Linked DNA regions of Homo sapiens: regions 1 and 3 are each reported to be linked to region 2. The links are microRNA targets in miRTarBase. Many come from high-throughput screens and were not tested one by one. Region 2 holds a microRNA gene; each other region holds the end of a gene's coding sequence.

Region 1 (10,909 bases), not on the chromosome of region 2:
GTAAATAATACAAGAGATGACAAGCAAGGCTATTCCCTGAATAAGGAATAAAGTAATGGATGTGTCTTAAGTGACGGTGTGAGGGATGTGTAGTGATTGCTTCAGCTCTCACAGGAACCAAAGGGGAAATCCTACAGAAACACAATCCTGGAACCTTCCCATTACTACCAAAATGCAAAGTATTGACAGAGCAGGACTTTGCTGAAGGAAATCTCTAAGCTCTCTTCTCACGTTATTTAGCTGACTGAAAAGTCTGGGCCATGCTGACCCCTGGTGGAGACAATGGGCCACTGCACTCCAAACTGGTGGCGAGGCCGGGCGGGAGGCCAAGACGGGTAGATCGCTTGAGGAAAGGGGTTCAAGATCAGCCTGGCCAACACGGTGAAACCCCGTCTCTATTAAAAATACAAAAAATTAGCCAGGCATGGTGGTGCATGCCTGTAGTCCCAGCTACTCGGGAGGCTGAGGCAGGAGAATCACTTGAACCTGGGAGGCGGAGGTTGCAGTGAGTTGAGATCACGCCACTGAACTCCAGCCTGGGTGACAGAGCCAGACTCTGTCTCAAAAGAAAAAAAAAAAAACTGGTGGAGAGAATGAGCCACTGCAGTCCAAAAAATATGGGAACAAAACTTTTTTTTTGTTTTGTTTTTTTTTTTTTTAAGACAGGGTCTCACTTCGTTGCCCAGGCTCACTGTAGCCTCGACCTCCTGGGCTCAAGCAATCCTCGTGCCTCAGCTTCCCAATTAGCTGGGACTACAGCCGTGCACCACCACACCTGGCTAATTCTAAAATTTATTTTGTAGAGATACGGTCTCCCTATGTTGCCCAGGCTGGTCTCGAACTCCTGGGCTCAAGTGATCCTCTCACCTCAGCCTCCCAAAGTGCTGGGATTACAGGCATGAGCTACCATGCCCAACCACCCTCTCCTTTTATACTCATTCGTTTTAATGAGCACATATTCTGTGGTAAAGGGAACACTAAGGCCCTGGGGCAAAGAGAACACAGTATTTAATCACCTTTCTTAAGAATTCATGACCTAAGCCGGGAGTGGTGGCTCATGCCTATAATCCCAGCACTTTGGGAGACTGAGGCAGGTGGATCACAAGGTCGGGAGTTCAAGAACAGCCTGACCAAGATGGTGAAACCCCCATCTCTACTAAAAATACAAAAAAATTAGCCAGGTGTGGTGGCAGGTGCACGTAATCCCAGCTATTCAGGAGGCTGAGGCAAGAGAATCGCTTGAACCTGGGAGGCGGAGGTTGCAGTGAGCCAAGATCACACCACGGCACTTGAGCCTGGGCAACACAGTGAGACTCTGTCTCAGAAAAAAAAAAAAAGGATTCACAACCTAATGGGTGATATAGGTTTCACTCAGCAGCACTGGGGAGAATGGAGACAAGTTAGACGGCTGATGCAGTTGACAGTGGGGGCTGGTAGGAGTAGGGGGAATGTGATAGGGATTCAGTGACAATCAGATATGTGAGAGGAGACAGACAAGCCAAGGACTCCATGGTTTCTGGGCAACTGGCTGAATATGGGTTGCAATTCATGAGATTCCCTCACTTGCTTAACCATTTCTGCTTTTCAAGCCATAGGTATGGCTTTTGGGAAGTCTCTTCCCACCACTCTCAAATATACTAAATCAGAGGTTTCTCCTTTGTTTCCTGAGCATCCTGTATGACTTCAATCATGGCACCTAGTGAATTATACTGCAATGGCCCTGTGAACTCTTGAAGAAATCATGTTTTGTGAAAACGAACAAAGAAGGTAGGCAGTAGTCATATCATGTAAAGCCTTGTGACCATGTAAGGGAATTTGAGGCAGGCACATTAACAGATTTAAGCAGGGAGGTTGCATGTCTGACTGTAATGCCGACATTGAATTAGAAGCAGACAGATAGAAGCTGGCAGATCAGCTTAGAAGCTACTCACATTTCTACATTGAAATGAGAAAGCCTTGTCCAGGCGCGGTGGCTCATGCCTGTAATCCCAGAACTTTGGGAGGCAGAGGCGGGCAGATCACCTGAGGTCAGGAGTTTGAGACAAGCCTGGCCAACATGGCAAAACCCTGTCTCTACTAAAAATACAAAAATTAGCAGGGCGTGGTGGTGGGCGCCTGTAGTCCCAACTACTTAGGAGGCTGAGGCAGGAGAATTGCTTGAACCTGGGCAGTGGAGGTTGCAGTGAGCCGAGATTCTGCCACTGCACTCCAGCCTGGGTGACAGAGTGAGACTCAGTCTCAATAAAAAAAATAATAAAATAAAATAAATAAATAAAAGAAATGAGAAAGCCTTAAGGCCAAGGATGACAGTGGCCTGAACTAGGGCCATGTGCATCATTCAAGGCAGTTACCACTCTGGGAGAGGAGGAAGAATTTTTGGTTAGTTATTTAGGCTTTTAAATATCTAGGCCAGAAGCCAGGTGTGGTGGCTCACACCTGTAATCCCAGCACTTTGGGAAGCTAAGGTGGGTGGATCACTTGAGGTCAGGAGTTCGAGACCAGCCTGGCCAACATGGTGAAACCCTGTCTCTACTAAAAATACAAAAATTAGGCCAGGTGCAGTGGCTCACGTCTGTAATCCCAGCACTTTGGGAGGCTGAGATGGGTGGATCACCTGAGGTCAGGAGTTTGAGACCAGCCTGACCAATATGGTGAAACCCGTCTCTACTAAAAATACAAAAATTAGCCGGACGTAGTGGCATGCGCCTGTAGTCCCAGCTACTCAGGAGGCTGAGACAAGAGAATTGCTTGAACCCGGGAGGCGGAGGTTACAGTGAGCCAAGGTTGCGCCACTGCACTCCAGCCTGGGCAACAGAGTGAGACTCAGTCTCAAAAAAAAATTAGCCAGGTGTGGTTGGTGGGCATCTGTAATTCCAGCTACTCAGGAGGCTGAGACAGGAAAATTGCTTGAACTCCAGAGGCAGAGGCTGCAGTTAGCCAAGATCAAACCACTGCACTCCAGCCTGGGTGATAGAGTGACACTCCGTCTCAGAATATACATTTTAAAAATATATATCTAAAATCCTTTTTTGAGGGGTAGGAGGATGGAGGTGGGATGTATGTTGCTATTGCACTGGCCAGCAGAACCTTGAGAAGTGGACTGATTAAAAAAATGTAGGCCTGGCATAGTGGCTAACACCTGTAATCACAGCACTTTGGGAGGCAAAGGTGGGAGGATGGCTTGAGCCCGAGAATTCGAGAACAACTTGGTCAACAAAGCGAAACCCCCGTTTCTACAAAAAAGTTAACGGGGCATGGTGCGTGCACATGTGGTCCCAGCTACATGGGAGGCTGAAGCAGGAAGATCGCTTGTGCCTCGGAGATGAAGGTTGCAGTGAGCTGTGTTTGCGCCACTGTGCTGCATGCAGCCTGGGTGACAGAATGAGACCCTGTCTCAAAAAATAAAATAAAATGGAATGCAGATCGAAATGTTCAATATAGGCTGTCCATAATCTCCTACCTCATACCCTGAACCAAAATATTGCTACTCTTGGTTAAGTTCAGAAAACTGAATGCTGAGTTAAACCATCCGTTCCTAGCCTTGAACATACAAAACCAACATTAACAGTATTTATGTATTTACTATTAATTATAAACAACTGTGAATTACCCAATGGTTGCTATTTGCCAATATATATCTAGATTAATTATTATTATTTTTTGAGATGGAGTCTTGCTCTGTCACCAGGCTGGAGTGCAGTGGCAGAATCTCGGCTCACTGCAACCTCCCACTCCCTGGTTCAAGCGATTCTCCTGCCTCAGCCTCCCGGGTAGCTGGGATTACAGGCGCGCGCCACCACGCCCGGCTAATTTTTGTACTTTTGGTAGAGGCGGGGTTTCACCATATTGGCCAGGATGGTCTTGATCTCCTGACCTCGTGATCCGCCTGCCTCGGCCTCCCAAAGTGCTGAGATTGCAGGCGTGAGCCACCGCGCCCGGCCTAGATTATTCTCACTTAATTATTACTAAGGTCTGTATATAATTTCTATTTTATAAATTAGAACACTAAGGCTCAGAAAAGTGGAGTGAGTTGCCCAAACTCACACAGTGAAGCCGGGATCAAAGCTAATTACAGTACTGTCTAATTTTAAAATCTATACTTCTAAGCATCTGGCTACACTATATCTCTAAAAGTTTTACGTAGTTCAAATGTGAGCAGCGTTCGTCTACGCAGAAAAACTGAATAAGCAGCATTAACCGCGGGCAGAAACAGAACAGAAACCACTACCTTGGCGGCCGCCCGCCCCCGGGCGTCGCCTACGTCATAACACTGCGCGGCCGCCCCTCGCGCACCACGTGCTAGGGGAGCGGGCGGGCAGATGGCTGTGTCTGTAAGCGGGAGGCGTGCCCGGTTCATCCAAGGCGCAAGATGGCGCTGCTTTTTGCACGTTCTTTGCGCTTGTGCCGCTGGGGAGCCAAACGATTGGGAGTTGCCTCCACAGAGGCCCAGAGAGGTAGGATTATCTCTTTTTACTCTTTTACCTCCAGAATGGCTGCCGTCTATTATTCCCAGACCCCACTCCGAGAAGCAACTCCAACCCTCTCGGGTCTTTTCCTTCCCCACCTGCCTTGGTCTTAAGATTCCAAACCTGTGATACCATTTGGTTTCTTTAAATTCCGGGACTTACTCAATCCGAGTTTTTCAGCTCCGTGAGCTATCCGTAGTAAAGCGACCTCGCGACTCTCTTGCCCGCTTGGCATTCTGACTCTTCCCTAGTTGCTCGTGTATCATGGCTGCCTGCCTCATATCTGAATATATCACCAGCCCTAGGGTTCTAGCCCCTGTTATTATCCCGTCTTTTTGCTCTGCCCGCAGGCGTCAGTTTCAAACTGGAAGAAAAAACCGCCCACAGCAGCCTGGCACTCTTCAGAGATGATACGGGTGTCAAATATGGCTTGGTGGGATTGGAGCCCACCAAGGTGGCCTTGAATGTGGAGCGCTTCCGGGAGTGGGCAGTGGTGCTGGCAGACACAGCGGTCACCAGTGGCAGACACTACTGGGAAGTGACAGTGAAGCGCTCCCAGCAGTTCCGGATAGGAGTGGCAGATGTGGACATGTCCCGGGATAGCTGCATTGGTGTTGATGATCGTTCCTGGGTGTTCACCTATGCCCAGCGCAAGTGGTACACCATGTTGGCCAACGAGAAAGCCCCAGTTGAGGGTATTGGGCAGCCAGAGAAGGTGGGGCTGTTGCTGGAGTATGAGGCCCAGAAGCTGAGCCTGGTGGATGTGAGCCAGGTCTCTGTGGTTCACACGCTACAGACAGATTTCCGGGGTCCAGTGGTGCCTGCCTTTGCTCTCTGGGATGGGGAGCTGCTGACCCATTCAGGGCTTGAGGTGCCCGAGGGCCTCTAGTATGTCCATTACTGGAGTCCCTAATCACGCCTTTGGCCAGCCTCCTTTTGAAAGTGTCCGAAGCCTTTTTACTTTGCCTCAAGCAACCTCTAGCTCCCACAATTCAGTGTTGGGTCCTCTGTGCAATATCATGATCATCTTCCTCATCCCCTACCTTGTGAAAGCTAGGCATACAGCCAAACCCTCCTTTTCCCCACCCACCAACTACTGCCAATTTCCTAGGCTACCATGGGTGTATCTTCCTTGACCTGCTTCCTTCAGTCCCTCTGCCTCCCTTTGCCCAGGCCTTTCTCAGACTGTATTCCATCCTGGGGTCTTATCATTCAGCTTTGTTTGAATTTATTAATCACCATGATACCTCTCCCTCCCTTTGTCCACATGTAACTTGTTCTTGGGGCTCTACCAGATGGCTGAAGAGTAAATCCTTTCTACCTCTGGCTGAAGGAGTGGTGCAGTCAATGACTTGGCCCTTTTTCTACAGCACATTTAGAGTTTGGGCTCTGGCTCCCTCAGTAAGTGCTTTATTAACTCAGTGTGTCAAAATGAAAACAGAGCCCTCCTTCCCCAGTAGCTCAGTGCCACAGACCTTCAGCCCCACACAGCTGTAGCTATCCTTACCCTGAGTCCATCTACCTTAAATCTGTACCTCTGACACCCAGCCAGTCTGTCATAATCATTATCCCAGTTATAACCTTGACCAAAGGGGAAGAGAGACACTTGGGGGATATCTAGGGGATGAGTGCTAGAAACTATTTATTTATTTTTGAGACAGAGTCTCACTCTGTCACCCAGGCTGGAGTGCAGTGGCATGATCTTGGCTCACTGCAAACTCTGCCTTTTGGGTTCAAGCGACTCTCGTGCCTCAGCCTCCTGAGTAGCTAGGATTACAGGTGTGTGCCACCATGCCCGTCTCATTTTTATATTTTTAGTAGAGATGGGGTTTTGCCATATTGGCCAGGCTGGTCTCGAACTCCTGGCCTCATGTGATCAGCCCACCTTGGCCTCCCAAAGTGCTGGGATTTCAGGCGTGAGCCACCACACCCGGCCAAAACTGTTTATTCTTGAGAAGTTCCATCTTCATTTCTGCCACAGTTGGAACTTCCCGAGGAAGGAAGGAGGCCTGAGGTTTTGCACAATCTGTTTCAGAGCCTGTTTAGACTCAAACCTATGCTTCCCTTGGCAGCAGAATACACTTAACCTAAAGCAGTATTTGGAGTTGAGAAAAACCTGGTGGGGTAAGTGAATATGTACTGTTTGGTAGGGTAGGTAGAGAAGCTGTGCTTTGACCCTGTGATTCCATCTTTTTCTACCTTCTATGATGGTGATGAAGCTAGATACCCCTAGGGAAGAAAGAAGGACTGGGTTTAGCAAAAATGATTTGGTAATTAAAGTTTATTTGAACACAAAATACTTTCTCTGTCTATAAAATTGGCTGTTAGCAGTAGCAGCAGCATGTCCTGGCCAAGGGGAGTAGATTTCTCCAGACTACTAAAGCCATGTATATAGCCATTCCCACTTCCCATATTCTGTGGATATGTACATGTGCATGGTAGCTAGAGTCCCTCCACCAGAGTATCTCTCTCATGATGGTTTCTTCAGGGAGAGGAAGAGGAGACCTGGGTGAAGAGCTGGGATGGTTTTGAGTGGGGCAAGCCATTAGGCTGTACCTTGAAGCCCAGTCTCTCTGGATAGCTGTACTGCAGGTGTCCTCTGAGGCCCTTCTCTGTACTCTGTCTGCTGAGGGAATGGGGTATTTTGACTCCCATAGAAAGCACTAGCCTAAGTCACCAAATGACTGCTTGGTCCCCACTGAAGCAGTGTAGCTCTCCATAGTATTTTTGGTGGTTATGGATTACATGTGTGGCCAGCTCATGCTTTTTCTTGAGCAGGGGCTGTCCATGACCTGTGCTCATACCATGCTTTCTAAGTTCTCTTTGGACAGGGCCTCAGCTGCTGCCTCAGCCTGAGTTTCAGAGAGTGTGTAGGAGTCCTGGTAATCTTGAAGCAGTTTGACCACCTCCAGATGGTTGAACTGCACAGCATCATCCAGGGGAATGTTGCCCCACCTGAGAGGAATAATGATATGATCAGGCAAAGGAGACGTGGAGAGTGGTGGTTGTATATATTTGCATGGTGGCTGGAGGGTAGGTGGAGAAGCTGTGCCCACCCTCCTCCACTTTTAGCCTATTCCTCACCTGTCCTTGGCAAAAGGATTCACTTTGCAAGCCTCGATCAGGAATTTAACAACTTCGATGTGTCCTAGGAATATGGGCAGAAGGAAAATGAGAAGGCGCAGGTCTTGAACCCTTTGGTGCAGACACTTAGCCACTGAAGTCTTTACCAAGAGGGGAGGGGAAAAGGCCTCTTCCCATTTTGTACCCTGCAGCACTCAGTCATAGTCTAGCTGCAAACCGAAGGGTGTCTAGATAAAACTAGTTGCTGCCCCTATAACCTTGAGGGCACATATAATGAAGGTACTTTTGGTGAAAAAGAAAGGGTCTTATGATTACCCTCCTCCTCCCCTCCTTAACCCTTCAGTACCTTCAGCTGCAGCAACATGCAGAGCTGTGCGCGAGTCATAGTCTTTCTGTTCCATATCCATGGCTGACAAGGCAAACCTGAGGGTAGTGGGAAAGCAGCTAGAGTTGCCTAGATCAGACTGGAATCACAGGTGTTCTTTGTGAACTGGTGTCAGACTGGATGAGTTTCAGAGAAAGTGAAACAGCCTATAGCCAGATTTGTTGGCTCTGAATAATCTTTTTTCCATATCCAGATGAGACTGTTATACTCATATTAGAGAGATGGGAATGTGATCCTTCCAGAAATATCACTCACTGCCTACCTGTGGTAAGTGCCCATTTGAGGCAGGGTACCTACTTCCTAGGACACTGCTCTTAACACTCAATAACAATGGCTAACATTAATTATCATAGAGCAGACAGTTTACTTTTTTTAAAAAAAATCTCCTTTTTTAAAAAAATTTCATTTAAATGCAATCTATATCCATTCTAATTCCAAAGCTGAAGCACTTAACTATTTTGTTACGCTGCCTCCTAGTAAAATCTCTGACCAGGAGTATTTTATTGTGTATATTTGGTCACAGTAGCATTACCTTCGAAGAGCTGAGACATCGCCACTATAGGCAGCAAATAACAGGTTGACCACAGTCTTGTTCTGGAACACAAATCATACCCACATGACATTAATTGAACTCACCTATGCCAGCTGTGCCCTGTGACCCTCCTCCATGGATGCTTAGTCCAAGGGTATTGCTGAAGTGTTATGGAATGTGCTACTCTGAAATATTCTTTTTTTTTTTTTTTTTTTTGAGACGGAGTCTCGCTCTGTCGTTCAGGCTGAAGTGTAGTGGCGCGCGGTCTTGGCTCACTGCAACCTCTGCCTCCCGGTTTCAAGCGATTCTCCTGCCTCAGCCTCCCAAGTAGCTGGGACCACAGGCGCGTGCCACCACGTCTGGCTAATTTTTTGTATTTTCAATAGAGACCAGGTTTCACCGTGTTAGCCAGGATGGTCTTGATCTCCTGACCTTGTGATCCGCCCGCCTTGGCCTCTCAAAGTGCAGGGATTACAGGCGTGAGCCACCGCACCTGGCCTTTGAAATATTCTTACAAGCCACCTGGAGTTTTCCTTACCCGAATTTCTGCCCCTTCACGCCGTGGGTCTAACTTCCGAGCACAGTGCCTCAGGTTGTCATAGTTGTGGAAATTGAAGAGAGACACCAACTTCTAGAATTGTAAGCCAAATATATTGTTTATTTACTCCTTACACTTAGTAGGAGCTCAAAATTGCTTTATTATAGTAAAAGTGGTACCATTAAACAAATTTATTGCTTCAAAAATAGTAAGTACTATATGCAAAGCATCTCACCTGGCAGAAGCTGGTCCCCCTATGGCTGTTCCCCAGCTTGTCCAATGGGGGTGACAGGCACATCATTCCCATGACATTGGGTACCACCAGGAGGATGGCTCCTGATACAGCTGACTTGGCTGGCAGGCCCACCTGGGGAACAGAACTGAAGCTGAGGATAAAGTGGGTGTGCCCCAAATCAGAAAATAAACAAGTTAGGCTGTACTCTTAACAAGTTTACAAATGACTGCATGACCACAATCCACCTCAACCTTTTGGCTTGTTAATTAGCTTCTTTTATTACTCCTGTCCTTTCCTTCCCTTAAATTCATTGATTCAGCTAGAAAATATTTTTTGAAATACTTACAGCATTCTGTGCTAGATGCTGTGCTAGAACTAGGAACTTCCATTCTGGTGTTAGGAGATAGGTAATAAACAGGTAAATAAATAGACACGTAATGTTTAAAGTAATTGTGATAAATAGTGAGAAGTAGGGTGCTGTAAATAGAGGTAGAGGGGGGCCACATGAGATAGGGTGGTCAGAAAAGTCTTTCTTTGGAAATGACATCTAAGCTGAGACCCCAAGGAGAAGAGCCAGCAATGTGAAGCACAATTCAGGAGCTGCAACACCTCTGGTTGTTTTTCTTTTTCTTTTTTTCTTTTTTTTTGAGATGGAGTTTTGCTCTTGTTGCCCAGGCTACAGTGCAATGGCACAATCTCGGCTCAGTGCAACCTCTGCCTCCCAGGTTCAAGCACTTCTGCCTCAGCCTCCCAAGTAGCTGGGATTACAGGTGCACACCACCACCCCCGGCTAATTTTTTGTATTTAGTAGAGATGGGGTTTCACCATGTAGGTCAGGCTGGTCTCGAACTCCTGACCTCAGGTGATCCACCTGCCTCGGCCTCCCAAAGACATCTCTTTATATATTCGAGGAACTTGGTGTTTTTGAGAAACTCGTCTAAGGAGTCTCAACCTAATTGCCTTCCTGGAAGTTAGTGAATGAGAGGCAGGAACAAGCTTCCACCTCTATCTTGAGAGAGTCAGTGTTCTCTCTTCTTAGCACTGGGCTCATGACAGATGGATAGCAGAGCCAGAAACTCACGTGGAAGGCAAACTGGCCAGAGAAGTCATACATGCCGCAGGAATGCATGAGGCTGAGGGTGTTGCGCACTGCTTCAGCACTCAGCACACTCTCGCCTGTGATGGGGCAGATCCCACCGTTGGCGAGGGTGGCTGCCATGACACTGCCTGATTCACAAGTGACCTCCACAGAACACAGCTATGAAAACAAAGAATAGGTGAAGATGTGACGTGAACCTGCACATGGGACCCTCGGGTGTAGGGAAAGGGCAAGGGCAAGGACAGTCTGTCCTGTTCCCTCGGCCCTGAGCAGTGTTTTCTTACCTGGAAGTAGAGATCAAGGGCAGCCATCATGTCCACCCCCTTAGGAAAGCACTGCAAGGAAGAGAGGGGAGAGCATTTCTCTTCAGGACATCAGCCCTTTCACACTGTCAGGGTCTCAGCTGAAGCCCCCAACCCCTACTGCCCTTCCACTAGCAGCAGAATTCCCAGGGACTTTCTCTTCCGGCCTCTTCTGGTTACCTTCTTTTCCTTGAGATAATAGCCGATGGCATAATTCCGATCCCCTGTTTCCTTCTCTGACTGGAATCTGAAGCAAACACCCAATTTA
Region 2 (10,909 bases):
CCGGGGGAGGGACTGTTGGGGCAAGGGCAGTGGGTCAGAGGTCACCGGTGCCCCCAGGACCAGTTTCCAGCGAGAAGAGAGCCAGGAGCCCCGGGCACAGGCCCACGGTGATGAGGCTCCTGACCGAGCTCCCAGAGCTCATTATGGAAAACCGTGGGGTCCGCTGGGACCTCTCTGCTGGTCGGGCTAATTACAGACCGTTTGTCGTTTCATTATGGGCTCTTCCTCTGGGAGATGCGAGAAGCAAACACTTTGCCATGGGAGGGGCGCTTCCCGGACCGGGCGGGGGCCCTGCCCTCCCCACCCCCAGACCCCTGGTCCCCCAGGCCTTCCAAGCTCCCAAAGAAAACTTGAACCCCCACTCCAGGGGCTCCAAAGTAACCTCCAGAGCCCAGATGGGGATGTTCCGGGAGCTGCTGGGGCCTCTCAGCTGTCCCTGCCTCGCAGGGAGGCTCAGGAAGGCACCCACACCCCTCCCTCATTCCCCCAGCTGTGGGTCTGTGGGGTCTCGGAGCCTCTTGCCCATTGGGGTGGGACTGGGGGCACGTAGCTCCTCCGAGCCCCTGGCGAGGAGACCGATCCTGAGACCCACCTGGGCCTACGGGGGGTCCCTTCATTGCTCCAAAATTAAGGGCTGCGGGCCTGGAGCAAAGACAGGCAGGTATGGCCCCTGCCCTCTGTCCATGAGAGGCCTCAGCCCCATGGGACAGGGCACCACCGCTGCAGGGAGGCGGCGGGCAGGTTGTGACCCCTCACCCTGGGGCCACCCTACCCGCTTCTAAGGCAGCCTGGGAAGGAGCCCTGCGGAGCTGGGGGGTGGGGAGGCAGAGGTGGAGAGGCGAGAGTTGCCCGCGGCTGCCCCTACCCCTGCCCATGTCGCCCACACTCCACACGGGCCCCACAGAAGCCTTCCCATCCTGGCTTTTGTTCAACCTCGGTGGGCGGCAAGGTGGGGGCGGGACGGAGTCTGCGGGGCCTGCGGGGCCCGGGCCTGCGTCACCGTCACTGGCCCGCCTCCCGCCCGGCCTATGGGAGCCCAGGGGACACACCTGTCGGGGGCCAGGAGCGGAGATTGGCCAGCGGGAGCTCGCACCTGTGTGGGGCGGGGAGCACTGCTCCTTGTAAGGCGAGCCCCCGCCGAGCCGGCTCTTCCCTCCCGAGGCCCCCACCTCGCCACCGCCTCCCATTGTCCCGTCGCCCTCGAAACTCTCCCAGAGACGGGCGAGTTGTCCACCTGTGCAGGTCTGAACTGACTTCCTGTGCCAGGGCCTCGCCTGAGCGGGGGCAGGAAGCTCACCCTTGCAGGTCTCCCCGCGCCAACGGACGCCCTGAGGCCTGACCCTGGCTGAGGCAGAGCACCCAGCTCCGTGGACCGGGACGGACGGGCTCAGGTGCCCCCCATTCCTTCCGAAGCCGGTTCACACCCACCCGGGCCTGGCACAGGGGAGGCGCTGGCTGCAGGGTCGGGGCGGGAGCAGCCTCAACCCGGCTCCTGGGCCGCGGCCGCAGCAGTGGAACCTGTCGGGGCAGGTAAGGGCGGGCAGCGGGGAGGCTGAGGCGCAGGGGGAGGCGGCTCCCTGCAGGGGGGCCCTCGCCAGCCCCCGCCGTGGCCGACGTGGGGCAGGGGCGCAGGTGACAGATGGGCTGTCGCCAGCCTGGCCAGCGTCCAGGGGAGCTCCGGTCACTGCAGACACAGGCTGGAGCGGGTCCTTCCCCCCCCCAGGGAAAGGTGGGCCCCTGCGCAGATGCGGCTGGGTTTCGGGTGTGGAGCCATCTTGGACCCACGGGCTGCGTCTTCCGGGCACGGGCACAGTGTGTGGGCTCCAGGCATGGGGTGCCCTCAGGGCAGGGCCTGGGCAGAGGGCAGGCTCCGAGAGGGGTCACGTTCTTGCCGCCTACCTGACAGCAGGCCTTCTAGAAAGTTCTCTCCAGAAGCAGCCACCGCCGTCCTGAGGCACTTTGTGCGGAGACGGGAAGCTGTCGCCTCAGAGGTGGGTGCGTAGAAGGGTTTGGCCGGGTGCGAGGATGACCGCGTCTCCCTTGGGCTCTGGAGTCTGCGGTGGGAAGGGCTTGGTTTCAGCACCCTCTGGTCAGAGGCCGGCCGAGCCCATGGGCGGTGAGGTTGGTGCCTGGGGTCGTGGCTGGTCTGGTACAGGTGGGGCTCAGCCCGGAGAAGCTGGAGCCGGTTCCCAGGCCCCGCGCTATGACTGGGGTGGGGGCAACGTCTCTCGTGAGGTTTTTTACTTAAATGTGAAACGGCTCAGTACGGTGGCCGCAGCCGGGAACAAGGTCCGACCCACCGAGGCCCAGCCTTGAACTTGCCGCGGGGGCACCTGAACACGGTTTTACAGCCCGGATCACTGGCTTTCTTGAAGTTTGGGAACTGATTGATCATGGTGGCGGGAGGTAAGGTTCATTGTTCTTGATGAACAAAATTCTTAGGGCGTGAAGAGCCGATGCTTTAATTAACCCCCCGGGAGCGTCTCAGGCCTCCCCCCGGGAGCGTCTCAGGCCCCGTTTACGCTGAGTGTCTGGGGAAAGACGTGGTTTGGTTTTGTTTTTCTAGTAACCCAGATGAAATGTTTAAAAGCATGGTTGGCAGCACATTGAATTTGGCAAAATTAAGGTTTGCATTTGTGAAAATGCGGATGCAGTTTGCGGTTCTTTTCAGACATTTTGGTAATTTGCAAATACTTATTTGCGAAACGAGTTTGTCAGAACATTTTTTAGTATCTAGAGGAAGATGAGATGGGCCGAGGAGGTCGCGCACCCCTGGATCCCTGGAGGAGCTGGTGTGTTCTCTGTGGGGCGGGTGGACGTGGCCCGGACACACGGGCCGTGCTCACAGCCGGCCTGCGAGGGCTGCAAATCCACGCCCGCCGTGTGGGTGAAATGGCGGCTTTGCCTCCCAGACGCGTAGCTCCGGCGACGCAGAGGGAAGAACCTGAGTGCCCGCCAGGCCGAGCTCCGCACCCCACCCCCCGGCAGCCTCTGACTCCCGGCTCGGCTCCCGCGGTCGGGGAGGGTTGGATTTCACACTTTGTTCTCGAGGCCGCACCATTGATTAAGCCCGTCGGGCAGGTTAACCAACAAGTTAGGTTTTCACGCCGGGATCACATTCCTCGCCGGGCGCTCCCACCCCACCCCAGCCTGTGCAGGTGGGACCCGGCCAGGCAGGCGGGCAGGGCGGCCAGGTGCGCCGAGGGGCGCCTCCACGGGGAGTGTGCTCCGCAGAGAACCCCTTGCTGGGGCGGCTCTGGGCCTCCTGACTCACTCCTGGATTTTCCCAAGCTGAGTCTGGCCCCGCGGTGATGATTAACCCAACACCTCAACCGGCACCGCCACGCTAGCTCCACTTCCCGGCGACGGTTGACAAGAAAGCGCCGCGTGGGGCTCTCGGAAAACAGGGAAGGTCCGTTTTCGCTTTTCATTTCTTGACCTGTGGCCACGGTAAGACTCGGCCGCCTGCCCACCCGACTCCTTGCCCCTCACCCCTGTGCCAGGCACAAGGCCCTGCGAAATCCTTGGTCCCCCAGCTGAGCCTGCCGGCCCAGGCCACCATCTCCCCACCCAGCCCTGGAGCCAGGGTCGGCCTCTCCTGCTAGCTGCTCGTTGGCTTTACAGCTTCTGCACTCAGGAGGCGCCTGGGAATCCTGCCCTGGAACTTAGGAAGGAGGCTTCTCCCACCTGCCTGCCACACGGGTCTGTCCCTGGGTCCCAGCCTCTGCCGTGTGCCCCTCAGCCTCCCGGGTGAGAACGCAATGACTGATGAGCCTGGGGTGGCCAGGCCAGCTCTGGCCCTGTGGGGTTCCTGAGAAGGCTGGCCCTGGGTGGCCAAGGGCCTGGGGACACTGGCCCCGGGCCCTGAACCTGGCAGTGGGAGGCCGGCCCGTCCGCCGGGTGGGCTGGGAACTGTGTTTGGCCCCAGCTGCAAGGGACGAGTGCCGGGCACCTGCTGCCCTCCCCACGTGACCTGGCAGCCAGGAATGGAGCTGAAATTCAACTCTGCTCTGAACGGGAAGTCTTAGTTTCCTTTAGCTCAGAAAACAGGTGAAATTGTGTTCCTGAAGCACTGATTTGATGGGATTTGATGGCATTGGTGGCGAAGGCCTGTGAGGTGATGGAAAGGGAAAGCCGGGTGCCCTGGAGCCTGACAGGCTGGGGCCAGGGCAGGGGACCTGGTGTGGGGTCTCCGGAGAGGGTCCAGGCGTGAGGGAAGCTGGGTCAGGACCTCGGAGACGTGGCCTTTGGAGGAGGAGACTGGAACCGGGTGGACCCGGCAGCAGGCGGGGGCGGGCGGACACGACCTTTGTTGTGGTCGGCGGGCAGACAGGGGAATCGGCACAGGGCCTGCGCCCCACCTACAGCCTCTGTGGGTGGAAGGTGCCAGAAAACTTGAAGAGTGGCTCTGGCCAGCTCTCTGGGCCCAGTTGGCACCAGGTGGTTGCAGAGAAAGGGTGGGAAGGAGGACAGGAAGGACGGCGTGTCCAGCGGGCGGGGAGCCTTGGTCTGGCCTGAGGGCTGAACCTCCCTCGGGTCCTGAGTGTGCCTGGAGTAGAAGCCTAGGGTCTCTGGGCTCCAGGCAGGGCCCTGAGCAAGGAGGGGCCACAGGGCTGCCCACTTCCTCCTGCCCCCCTGCAGAGGCGGCTCAGCCCTCGCGGCGTCTGAGGCTTGACTGCCTGTGTCTGTGTTTGTGGCCGGTCTGCCTCTGTGCCTGGGTCAGACCCCAGACCAGCAGACACACAAACCGCAGGGACGGCTGGGCAGGGTCAGGAGCCTGCCCCGCCCGCACCCCCACCCACACCCCCACCCCCACCCCCGCCTGCACCCCCTGCCCTCAGACGCTGTGCAGTGAGCGGGGCAGCATGGGAGAGGGGTCTCCAGGTGGCGGGGACCGTTCTGTCTCGAGAGCCTCGCAGACACCGGGCCTTTGAGAAGAGAAGGGGCTGGGCAGGGAAGCAGCTCCTGGAACACCATCCTGGAGACAGAGGCCCTTGTCCCCTGCCTCAGACAAGGCAGCACGTGGGGCCCGGGGGGCTGGGGCTGCTGTCCAGGCCTTCCTATGGGACCACCCAGAGGGAAGGTCCCCCGCAGAGGGGTGGGGGCAGAGGGCCGAGCGGGGCGGGCAGAGGGCCCGTGTCAGCCCCACTCCGACCTAGTCCTCGGCCGTCTGGCCAGGACACTTCGGCCCCCCAGGTGCCCACCCCAGGACCCAAAGCTGGTGGCTGCTGGACTCGGCAGGGCTGGCGGGTGGGGCTCACCCGGGCCCCTGCCCTCCGGCGATGCTGTCCTCAGTGCCCCAGGAGGACGAGGCCCCCCAGCTACTGAGCTTCCCAGCGAGTCCCATGCAACCCTCAGCCGGGCGGCCCCCGGACCCAGCTCGGGCAGCCGTGGCCATCTTACTGGGCAGCATTGGATGGAGTCAGGTCTCTAATACTGCCTGGTAATGATGACGGCGGAGCCCTGCACGCAGCGACCGGCCGACCCCGTCCCGGCCCCCAGGGCCTCCCGCCGAGCCCCACACTCCCCTCCCACACAGCCCGCTCACCGGACCCCACCCCGTCCGGGCCAGATGGCTCTGGGGAGAGTGACGGGGGGACGTGACCTTCGGAAGGGGGCTGGGGCGCCCCCCACCAGCATCTCAGAGACCCCGGAATGCAAGGCCTCCTGCAGCTGCACCCAGGGCGCCCCACAGTGATCTGGGGATTAGGACGCTCAGGTGTCCGGGCCCTGCCCACAGCGCCTGGGCGGGAGCTGCTGTCACACCCAGCAGGTGCGGGCCGAGCAGGACCCAACAGAGGGCTCAGGAGGGCAAGGCCCAACCGGGAGCCACGTGGAACCCAGAGGAAGCCGCCCCACCCAGCTTGGCCACAGCCATCTTCCCTCCTGCCGGACAGGGTGGGCCGGCCACCGAGCAGACCAGTGCCCCCGCCTTGGTCCCGGGTCAGCAGCCCCAGGGTCCCCTTGCCCTGGAGGAAGCAGGGAGGGTGGGCCTGTGTGCAGTCTCAGGGCCCCCAAGCCCCTCTCCGCCAGCCCTGTCCGGTCCCGGCACCACCCCTGGCTGCTCACCGCTCCGGTTCTTCCCTGGGCTTCCACAGCAGCCCCTGCCTGCCTGGCGGGACCCCACGTCCCTCCCGGGCCCCTGTGAGCATCTTACCGGACAGTGCTGGATTTCCCAGCTTGACTCTAACACTGTCTGGTAACGATGTTCAAAGGTGACCCGCCGCTCGCCGGGGACACCACCGAGGCACATCCGGAGCTCCTACTCCAGGGATGGGCTGGGGCGGAGGGCCGAGCGGGGCCAGCAGACGGGTGAGGGCGGAGGGCCGAGCGGGGCCAGCAGACGGGTGAGGGCGGAGGGCCGAGCGGGGCCAGCAGACGGGTGAGGGCGGAGGGCTGAGCGGGCGGCAGAGGGCCTGTGTCAGCTCCGAAGTCCAGCCCCCAGGGGAGGGGCCGGCCTCTGCCGGGGGTGCCCCCGGGGTCACTCACGCCCAGGCTGGGTCTGACACCTTGAGGACCCCTTGGTGCCTCCACAGGTGGCCTGGAGGGCATCCTGCTCCCCCTCCCGGAGCCGCTGTGCCTCCCCCACCCAACCTCCCAGGCTGGGTTTTAGGGTGACCTGGCTCCAGGAAAGGCCATAGGGCTGGGATGCCAGGGCTGGAGAGGGAAGAGCAACAGTGGCCTCTCTCACGTGGTCCGGGCTCCGTGGAGGGTCTGCTGGGGGCGCAGGAAGGACAAGGTGGGTTCAGATTCCCGAGCCCCACCATGCAGGGGAGCGGGGACGCTCTGCGCTTGCCCTCTGAGGGACAAGGGGTCTCATTCCTTCCCCCAGTCAACAAGAACAGGAACTTTGTCCAAAACCCACCAGGCCAGGATGACCCATTGTTTCATCTTTTCCATCTGCAACCAGGGCGCCTGGGACCGCACCCCCACACAAGGCCCCAGCCTGGGGAGGGGGCAGCCACCGGGGAGAGGCTGCCCTTCACTGTTACTCATTAACCCGACCGAGCTTCAGGAAGCCAGCGAGGGGCTGCAGGGAACCTTTGCCAAGAGCAGGGCCTGGGTGACCAGGTGGCTCCCGGGTACCCCCACACAGCCAGGCTGGGCTGGGACCAGGTGCTGGGATGGGGGCTGTCAGGGAAGTGCCTCGGGGGCTCGTTCTGCAGACCCAGGAGGGATCAGGGCAGCTGCAGGAGGTGGCAGGAGCCGCCCCCGGGGCCTTCCCTTCACAGGCCCCGCAGACACCAGCCCAGGACCCGGAGGCCACCCACACCACCGCCGGCCGATGGGCGTCTTACCAGACATGGTTAGACCTGGCCCTCTGTCTAATACTGTCTGGTAAAACCGTCCATCCGCTGCCTGATCACCGTTAGAGGAGAGAGCTGCCTGCCCTGCAGCTCATCAGTGCAAAGCCGCCCGGTCTGGGGCTCTCATGCCCCCCTCACTATGGCCTGTGCCCATCCGCAGCCCATCAGTGCAAAGCCGCCGGGGTCTGGGGCTCTTGTGCCCCACCCTCGCCATGGCCTGTGCCCACCCGGCCTCCTGGGGCCCTCGAGCTGTAGTCCCCGGGCAGATGCTGTGGACCCCGTGCTATCAGCCTGGCCCCTGGGGTCACAGTCACAGATACCCGGAGCCCCACCCCACAGCCCCAGCCCCCTCGCCACCTGGGGAGGCTGAGACAGAAGCAGCTGGGCCCCCCAAAGTGCCTGAGCCCAGGGCACGGAGGAGCACAAATGCCCAGCAGGGACAATGTCACAGCGTCTCAGCGGCCAGGCAGCAGGACGCAGAGACCTCTGGGAGGTTCCCGGGGCCAGCCCTGGCCCTCCTCCTCCAGGGGCCAGCCGTGGGATGCAGACCACACTCTCCCTCCAGGGCCCATCTCTGGGGCTGAGGCGGGCGGGGCCGGTGCCCAGCTGCAAGACCATGGGATAGGGAAGGCAGGTGCTTGGGGCCACGCAGCCCTGCACTGGGGGCCCCTCCACCCCAGGCGGCTCACGAGGTGTCATCTGGAGCTGTCCCCAAGCCGGGATCTGCAGGTTGACCTCCCCCACCCGGGGCTATCTCCAGACCCTCTTTCCTCCCTGGGGAGATGGGGCAGTCCCCCGCAGGGCCAGCTGAAACCACCCCCATGCTGCTGCCGCCTGAGCGACGTGTGTGGGGAAGAACTTGGAGTGCCACCCCCAGAATGTGGCGTCCACCTCACCAGACCGCACGGGTGAGCCCTGGACTGCAAGGTGCATATAACACAAGGTTTGGACACACCTGGAGAGCTCGGGCCAGGCAGGGCCACACCTGTGAGCCTGAGCTCATCCAACACCGCCCGGAGCTCGGGGACCTTCCCCATCCCAGCACCTCCTCACCGCTGTGCCCGTCTGGCCAGTCCCTCCAAGCACCCCTCGGATGAAGTTGCGCCCCACACTGCAGTGGGGCTCACTCTCCACAGCGCCTGCTGCGTTGCACGGGGTGTGACAGGAAGGACCCTGCTGGGGCTGGCGGGGCCGTACCCAGAGCCTCCCTGTGCGGTTTCTCCTCCTCCTCCTCCTCTCCATAAGCACCGGGAACAAAACAGAAAAAAGTCTTTGTATAGTAATAAAGTCTGCAGTTCACGCACCCATGCTTGGACCAGCTCCTTATTTTAACCACACGTGCACAGACCCCCGCCGTGCAAAGGGCCCAGCTGAGGACAGAACCCCAGACACTGCATCCGGCCCCGGAGGCCCCCAAGGTTCCTGGGAGAGGCTCCCTCCCTCCCTTCCCTCCTCTTTCCCTCCCCCTCCTCCTTCCTCTCCTCCATCCCTCCTTCCCCCTCCTCCCTCCTCCTCCTCTCTCCGTCCCTCCCTCCCTCCTTCTTTTGCTCAGGAATCTTCCCTGACTCTCCTGTGGTCAGCTCAGGTCAAGGTTCTGGGGGAAGGGGGAGTCCCTGAGTGGAGACACCTCAGCCTGTGCTGAAGGGAGCTACCGAGGGGGCAGCCGGTGGCCCTGGGGGGCCTCTCTGAGCAGGTGACCAAGAGCGTATGGTGCCGGCCAGCAGGAGCGAGGGCTGCGGACAGGATGGAGGCAGCCAGGCGCCAGCCAGGAGGGCTTCCTGGTCCAGCCACACCTGCCCCGGTGACAGCCACAGGTTGGTGGCAAAGGGGCCACCTCCCTTCCAGTGGCAGGGCCTGGCCTGCCTGGAGACCCCACCCACTGCCCGAGAGGTGCCAGGCCTCCCCCATTCTGCCTGGCCCTGGGGGCTGCACCCACCTGGACACGCGGGCCGGGCACACCCACGGCCCAAGGTCCTGCTCCCACCTGCCCTGCGCAGGAACCTTGCTGGGGCTACAGGTATCCGTGGCTGCCACACCACCCAGATTTTGGGATTAAGGGGCAGAGTTTTCAAGTTTGAACTCAGGAAAGCTGTGAGGGACGAGGTAGTGCCTGGCTGGGGAGCCTGGGGGCTTCTGAGGGCGGTGGGGAGTCCTCAGGCCTGTGTGGGGCCCCAGGGAGGGGAGGCTGCAGGGGTTGGGGGACCTGCCCGCTGCACCCCCTCTCCCCCCACACAAGGAAACCCGTCCTCCGAGGTGTGTGTCCAGATCACATCCTCCAAAGGCCGGTGCGCCACAAAGATGAACACGGGGCTCTCCCTCCCAGCCCAGGGGCAAGGACCCTGCCTTGCTCTGTTCCCGGAAGGGCCAGTTCTGGAGAGGAGCTGGGCGAGTCCTTCCCATCCCCATCAGCTCCTGTCAGGCCACCTGCCTCAGCCTCAGGGAGGAGGGGACACACGTAGGCCCCTTCCCAGAGTCAGAGCTTCCGAACCCGGATCTGCTGCTCCCAGCCTGGAGAGCCACAGCAGCCACCGAAGGAACCCCCCACCCGTCACCCCCACCAAGTGGGCCCTGCTCCCCGAAGGCCCAGCCACTCAGCCCAGGACCTGCCCCAGCCCCACCTGCCACCTGACCTGAGGCTCCCAGAGGGCAGAGGGGCCTCCTGGGTCTGCTCCGCACCAGGGTCCAGCGGGACCATCTCAAAGCTTGAGCACCAGGCGCAAGGTGGGAGTGCGGGGAGGGGACGAGGACACTGTTCCCAGCTGGACAGAACCAGGAGGACGGTGGGAGACGCCCCCCACCGCCCCGCTTCCGAGAGCTCTCTCTTCCTTCCAGGGACTCCCCAGGGACAGCCGGGGCCCCTTCTTCCCCCACAGCTCAGGCCCCAGGGACACAGAGCGGGGAACCCCCAGGCTGCCGCCCCGGCGTGGGTCGGGGAGGCGGCTCCGGAGCGGGCACCACACTCTCGAAAGGGTGGCTTCTCCTCCCGGCTGCTGAAAAACCACACAGGCAGGCACAACAACAGACGCTTACGCCCGCATCTGGAGGCCAGAACTCCAAAGCCACAGGGCAGGCAGGGCTGCACCCCTCTGGGGGCTCCAGGAGAGGACCCTGTCTGCCTCCCCAGCCCCTGCCAGCTCAGGCATCAGTGGCTGTGGCCGTGTCACCCATCTCTGCCCCCCAGTCCCACGGCGTCTCCCCCACGTCTGCGTCTCCTCTCTCCACCTCCCTCTCAGGGGGGCAGAGGCCATTGATTCAGGGCCTGCCCTGGGTGATGTCACTAGAGATCCTGACGTAACCCCACCTGCAAAGCCCCTTCTTCTAAATAAGGTCACATTCGAGGTTTCAGGGCTATGATGTGGTTGTCTTTTGGGGGCACCACCAGCCCCCTGCAAGGGGACCCTAAGCACAGAGGCCCTCGTGACCCACGCAAAGCTCTGAAGGACACGGATGGGTAGGGGACACGTGGCTGGAGGCTCAGAGTTTGAGGCAGAGGGGATCAGACCGTGCCATGGGTCATGCCAGGAGCCCAGGACTCCCAGACCTCGTATCATTAGGTGTTTTAAAGAGAAGGCGAGGGCAGGCCAGGCGCAGTGACTCACGCC
Region 3 (5,000 bases), not on the chromosome of region 2:
CTCAGTGGAGGCCTTTGGGAGCCTGCCTGCAAGCTGCGTCATCAACCAGCCTGAATTTAGACAAAGTGCTTTGGGGAAAAGAAACGTGTGGTGTGCCTTGTTTTTTTCCAGTAATTGTTCCATGGCTCGTTCTGCTTGTAAGATTTTCCAAAATAAGGCCGTAGATGAGAATTATATCAGCACATTGGGAACCGAAGGCATGCGGACACTGTTGGCGCTTTGTAAAAAACACCCCTCAATCAGACAGACACACGTCATCGTCGCCTGCTGGGGCTGGGCCCAGATTTCGAGATAGGGGAGCGGCACGTGCCCGTTTGGTACAGATGGGAGCCAGGAAGCCCTTTGCTCAGGATGGAGGTCTCCTCTATTAGGGGGCCTGTTACAGTAACTGGTGGGCCTCTGGGGTACCCTGCAATTGACTTTACATATTTAACTCTTTGCCATTGACTTTACATGTTTAACTCTTTAAAGTCGACTTCCTTCCCCCTCAAGAGAACTTAATTTACTCAAAGTCCTCCCTGGGTAGAGGAGTTTGGCCGGGTAGTTTCAGCAAGTTACTGGTACCGCTTCTAGGACAGCGTCTAACAGCATCTTTGGGAAGATGACTGTCACCAAAGCAGAAAAAGCTTTCTGACTTGTGTAACCCCCTGGAGATTTTTTAAGTCCCCCACCCCACCCCTTTCCCTATTTCTTACAGGAGACAGACTGTGACCAGTACCCCCTGCTGGATTGAGCTGCACCTGAATGGGCCTTTGCAGTGGCTTGACAAGGTCCTCACCCAGATGGGCTCCCCAAGCATCCGCTGTTCCAGTGTGTCTTAGAGACATCAAGTATGGTAGGGGAGGGCAGGCTTGGGGAAAATGGCCATGCAGGAGGTGGAGAAAATTGGAACTCTACTCAACCCATTGTTGTCAAGGAAGAAGAAATCTTTCTCCCTCAACTGAAGGGGTGCACCCACCTGTTTTCTGAAACACACGAGCAAACCCAGAGGTGGATGTTATGAACAGCTGTGTCTGCCAAACACATTTACCCTTTGGCCCCACTTTGAAGGGCAAGAAATGGCGTCTGCTCTGGTGGCTTAAGTGAGCAGAACAGGTAGTATTACACCACCGGCCCCCTCCCCCCAGACTCTTTTTTTGAGTGACAGCTTTCTGGGATGTCACAGTCCAACCAGAAACACCCCTCTGTCTAGGACTGCAGTGTGGAGTTCACCTTGGAAGGGCGTTCTAGGTAGGAAGAGCCCGCAGGGCCATGCAGACCTCATGCCCAGCTCTCTGACGCTTGTGACAGTGCCTCTTCCAGTGAACATTCCCAGCCCAGCCCCGCCCCGCCCCGCCCCACCACTCCAGCAGACCTTGCCCCTTGTGAGCTGGATAGACTTGGGATGGGGAGGGAGGGAGTTTTGTCTGTCTCCCTCCCCTCTCAGAACATACTGATTGGGAGGTGCGTGTTCAGCAGAACCTGCACACAGGACAGCGGGAAAAATCGATGAGCGCCACCTCTTTAAAAACTCACTTACGTTTGTCCTTTTTCACTTTGAAAAGTTGGAAGGATCTGCTGAGGCCCAGTGCATATGCAATGTATAGTGTCTATTATCACATTAATCTCAAAGAGATTCGAATGACGGTAAGTGTTCTCATGAAGCAGGAGGCCCTTGTCGTGGGATGGCATTTGGTCTCAGGCAGCACCACACTGGGTGCGTCTCCAGTCATCTGTAAGAGCTTGCTCCAGATTCTGATGCATACGGCTATATTGGTTTATGTAGTCAGTTGCATTCATTAAATCAACTTTATCATATGCTCTTTTAAATGTTTGGTTTATATATTTTCTTTAAAAATCCTGGGCTGGCACATTGACTGGGAAACCTGAGTGAGACCCAGCAACTGCTTCTCTCCCTTCTCTCTCCTGAGGTGAAGCTTTTCCAGGTTTTGTTGAAGAGATACCTGCCAGCACTTCTGCAAGCTGAAATTTACAGAAGCAAATTCACCAGAAGGGAAACATCTCAGGCCAACATAGGCAAATGAAAAGGGCTATTAAAATATTTTTACACCTTTGAAAATTGCAGGCTTGGTACAAAGAGGTCTGTCATCTTCCCCCTGGGATATAAGATGATCTAGCTCCCGGTAGAGGATCACCGGTGACAACTATAGCAGTTGTATTGTGTAACAAGTACTGCTCCCAGCAGCAATTAGGGAGAAAACTAGTCTAAATTATTTCAACTGGAAAAAAGAAAAAAGAGTCCTCTTCTTTTCCCAGCCTTTTGCAGAACACAGTAGACAGAACTGCCACCTTCAATTGGTACTTTATTCTTTGCTGCTGTTTTTGTATAAAATGACCTATCCCACGTTTTTGCATGAATTTATAGCAGGAAAAATCAAGGGATTTCCTATGGAAGTCCTGCTTTATTCCAGGTGAAGGGAAGGAAGTGTATATACTTTTGGCAAGTCATACAGCTCAAATGTGATGAGATTTCTGATGTTAGAGGGAGATGGAGAGGCTTCCTGATGCCTCATCTGCAGGGTCCTGTGCCTCTGAAGTTCTAGCCATGAGGTTTCCAGGTAGGACAGCTGCTCCCCAAGCCTCCTGAGGACACAGGAAGAGACGGAAGGAGCACCTTGACAGACTTGTGTGAGTCTTCTCGAAGGAGGGTTGACTCAGAACCCAGAGACAATACAAAACCCCTCACTTCCTCTGAGAGGGCCAAATGCTGTGAGTCTGAAGTATGTGCCTGGTGTGAAATGATCTATGGCCTGTTTCTTACACAGGAAGCCCCCTGAACCTCCTGTACATGTGTTCATGTTCCCAGCCAGCTCTGAGACCCAGGAACCAAATATTCCATTTTGGCTTCTGCTAGAGCAGTCATGGTTCCTCTCCTAAAAGCCATGGGCAGCAGTTTCCGAGGGCCTGCATGATCCACCTGCTGCACGATCCTATGAGGGCTTCCTGTGGCACACAGCCCTCTGGGTGCTTGGGAACTAGCTTCAGGCACAGCCTGATTCTGGTGATCCAGTGATCTATGGAAGTCGTGTCTTACTCCAGGTGAAGGGGGAAAAAAAAAGCCTATACTTTGGCAGGTTATGAACTTTGAATGTGATGAAATGACACGTTTGGCTGCATTTGGATGGTGTCTTAGAACCCTCATTGCTCAGACCTGAAGGCTACTTCTAGGAGCATGAAGTTTGAGTTTTGTGTTTTTCCAAAGGATACTTCCTTGGCCCTTTTTCTTTATTGACTAGACCACCAGAGGAGGATGTGTGGGATTGTAGGCAAACCCACCTGTGGCATCACTGAAAATAAATTTGATCATACCTAAGAGGTTAGGAAATGGTGCCATTCCCACCTTAGAGTGCTACATAGGTGCTTTGGGCGTATGTAACATTAGTGTCCTTCCTTGAAGCCACAAGCTAGTTTTCTTAGTTTTAAAATCCTGTTGTATGAATGGCATTTGTATATTAAAACACTTTTTTAAAGGACAGTTGAAAAGGGCAAGAGGAAACCAGGGCAGTTCTAGAGGAGTGCTGGTGACTGGATAGCAGTTTTAAGTGGCGTTCACCTAGTCAACACGACCGCGTGTGTTGCCCCTGCCCTGGGCTCCCCGCCATGACATCTTCACCTTGCAGCTTGTGCTGAGACTGACCCAAGTGCAGCTAGCACTGGGACACAGATCCTTGTCTTCAGCACCTTCCAAGGAGCCAACTTTTATTCCCTTTCCTCTCTCCCCTCCCCACCTCGCTTCTTCCCAATTTAGTAACTTAGATGCTTCCAGCACATACGTAGGTAGCTACCCCAGCCGGTTTGGATTACAGGCCTGTGCTGGAACATCATCTCAGTTGGCCACCTTCCTGGCAGGCTGTAGACCTGACATTTTGAGACAAGCCTAGAGGAGTCAGGAGCAGGGACTTTGACTCTTAGGAAGAGCACACATGAGGGCAAGGCTGCTGGCAGACGTCTCCATTGTCCTTATGTTGTCTGTGTTGTATTTTTTTTTTTTTATTGACCATGGTGATTATTTTTTTAAACCATCGTTAATATACTGAAGTGAGCTATAGCACATATCATGTGCTTAGTTTGTTTATTTTTCTCCATCTCCCCTTGGCTTCCTAGAGTTTGGACATATTCCAGGCTAAATGCTTTTACTCAAGACTACAGAAAGGTTTGAAGTAGTGTGTGCATGGCATGCACGTATGTAAGTAATCTGGGGAAGAAGCAAAGATCTGTTTCATTCTTAGCCTCAGGCCTCATGAGGGTCTCCACAGGGCCGGAGCTCAGGTTACACCACTCCTTCGTCCTTACAGGAGATGTAGGGAGAAGAATCTGCAGGCTGCTTGTAGGACTGTTCACCAAGGGGGATACCAGCAGCAAGAGAGTGCACCCGTTTAGCCCTGGACCCTGTTTCTTACTGTGTGACTTGGCTAGAGTTGGGAGTTCCCCCAAAATAAACGTGTCCCCATTTTACCAGAACCAAACCTCAACACAGCGAAGCTGTACTGTCTTTGTGTGGCAAAGATGTTCCCTTGTAGGCCCCTTTCAGGTAACCGTCTTCACAATGTATTTTCATCACAGTTTAAGGAGCATCAGCCGCTTCTCAAGTGGGTAGGGAAAGCAGAAAAACGTACGCAAGAGGACATGGATCCAAAATGATGATGAAGCATCTCCCATGGGGAGGTGATGGTGGGGAGATGATGGGCTAAACAGGCAACTTTTCAAAAACACAGCTATCATAGAAAAGAAACTTGCCTCATGTAAACTGGATTGAGAAATTCTCAGTGATTCTGCAATGGATTTTTTTTTAATGCAGAAGTAATGTATACTCTAGTATTCTGGTGTTTTTATATTTATGTAATAATTTCTTAAAACCATTCAGACAGATAACTATTTAATTTTTTTTAAGAAAGTTGGAAAGGTCTCTCCTCCCAAGGACAGTGGCTGGAAGAGTTGGGGCACAGCCAGTTCTGAATGTTGGTGGAGGGTGTAGTGGCTTTTTGGCTCAGCATCCAGAA

The links. The annotated mature microRNA hsa-miR-200a-3p reads UAACACUGUCUGGUAACGAUGU and lies in region 2 at 6,188-6,209, shown strand. An mRNA with a match to its seed (bases 2 to 7 or 8) in the 3' UTR can be bound and repressed. Matches are read on the target gene's strand: a 7mer-m8 pairs with bases 2 to 8, a 7mer-A1 pairs with bases 2 to 7 and ends in A, and an 8mer does both.
Region 1: miRTarBase lists SPRYD4 as a target of hsa-miR-200a-3p. Seed matches in the 3' UTR shown: 7mer-m8 at 5,460-5,466, 7mer-A1 at 8,632-8,638, 7mer-m8 at 10,261-10,267 and 7mer-m8 at 10,610-10,616.
Region 3: miRTarBase lists SMAD3 as a target of hsa-miR-200a-3p. The part of its 3' UTR that is shown has no 7-base or 8-base seed match.

What each region holds. Positions count from the first base shown.
Region 1 is chr12:56,464,223-56,475,131 of GRCh38, forward strand. It overlaps SPRYD4 (SPRY domain containing 4), which reads left to right and starts at 4,356. Exons shown (of 2, transcript NM_207344.4): 1 at 4,356-4,454; 2 at 4,817-10,909. The coding sequence starts at 4,370. The coding sequence ends at 5,355. It overlaps GLS2 (glutaminase 2), which reads right to left. Exons shown (of 18, transcript NM_013267.4): 10 at 10,822-10,888; 11 at 10,624-10,674; 12 at 10,322-10,498; 13 at 9,241-9,372; 14 at 9,006-9,098; 15 at 8,468-8,529; 16 at 7,897-7,973; 17 at 7,551-7,614; 18 at 6,730-7,421. The coding sequence ends at 7,265. RefSeq lists enhancers at 4,024-4,093, 4,104-4,283, 4,604-4,653, 5,074-5,203.
Region 2 is chr1:1,161,729-1,172,637 of GRCh38, forward strand. MIR200A (microRNA 200a) reads left to right here and starts at 6,135; the gene lies at 6,135-6,224. MIR200BHG (MIR200B, MIR200A and MIR429 host gene) reads left to right here and starts at 1,149. Exons shown (of 2, transcript XR_007065348.1): 1 at 1,149-1,530; 2 at 1,907-8,610. It overlaps MIR200B (microRNA 200b), which reads left to right and starts at 5,376; the gene lies at 5,376-5,470. MIR429 (microRNA 429) reads left to right here and starts at 7,277; the gene lies at 7,277-7,359. It also overlaps LOC124903820. RefSeq lists an enhancer at 9,078-9,645.
Region 3 is chr15:67,189,716-67,194,715 of GRCh38, forward strand. SMAD3 (SMAD family member 3) reads left to right here. Exons shown (of 9, transcript NM_005902.4): 9 at 698-5,000. The coding sequence ends at 821. Among named protein-coding and RNA genes, the nearest start is that of SMAD3-AS1, 45 kb to the left of the region's middle.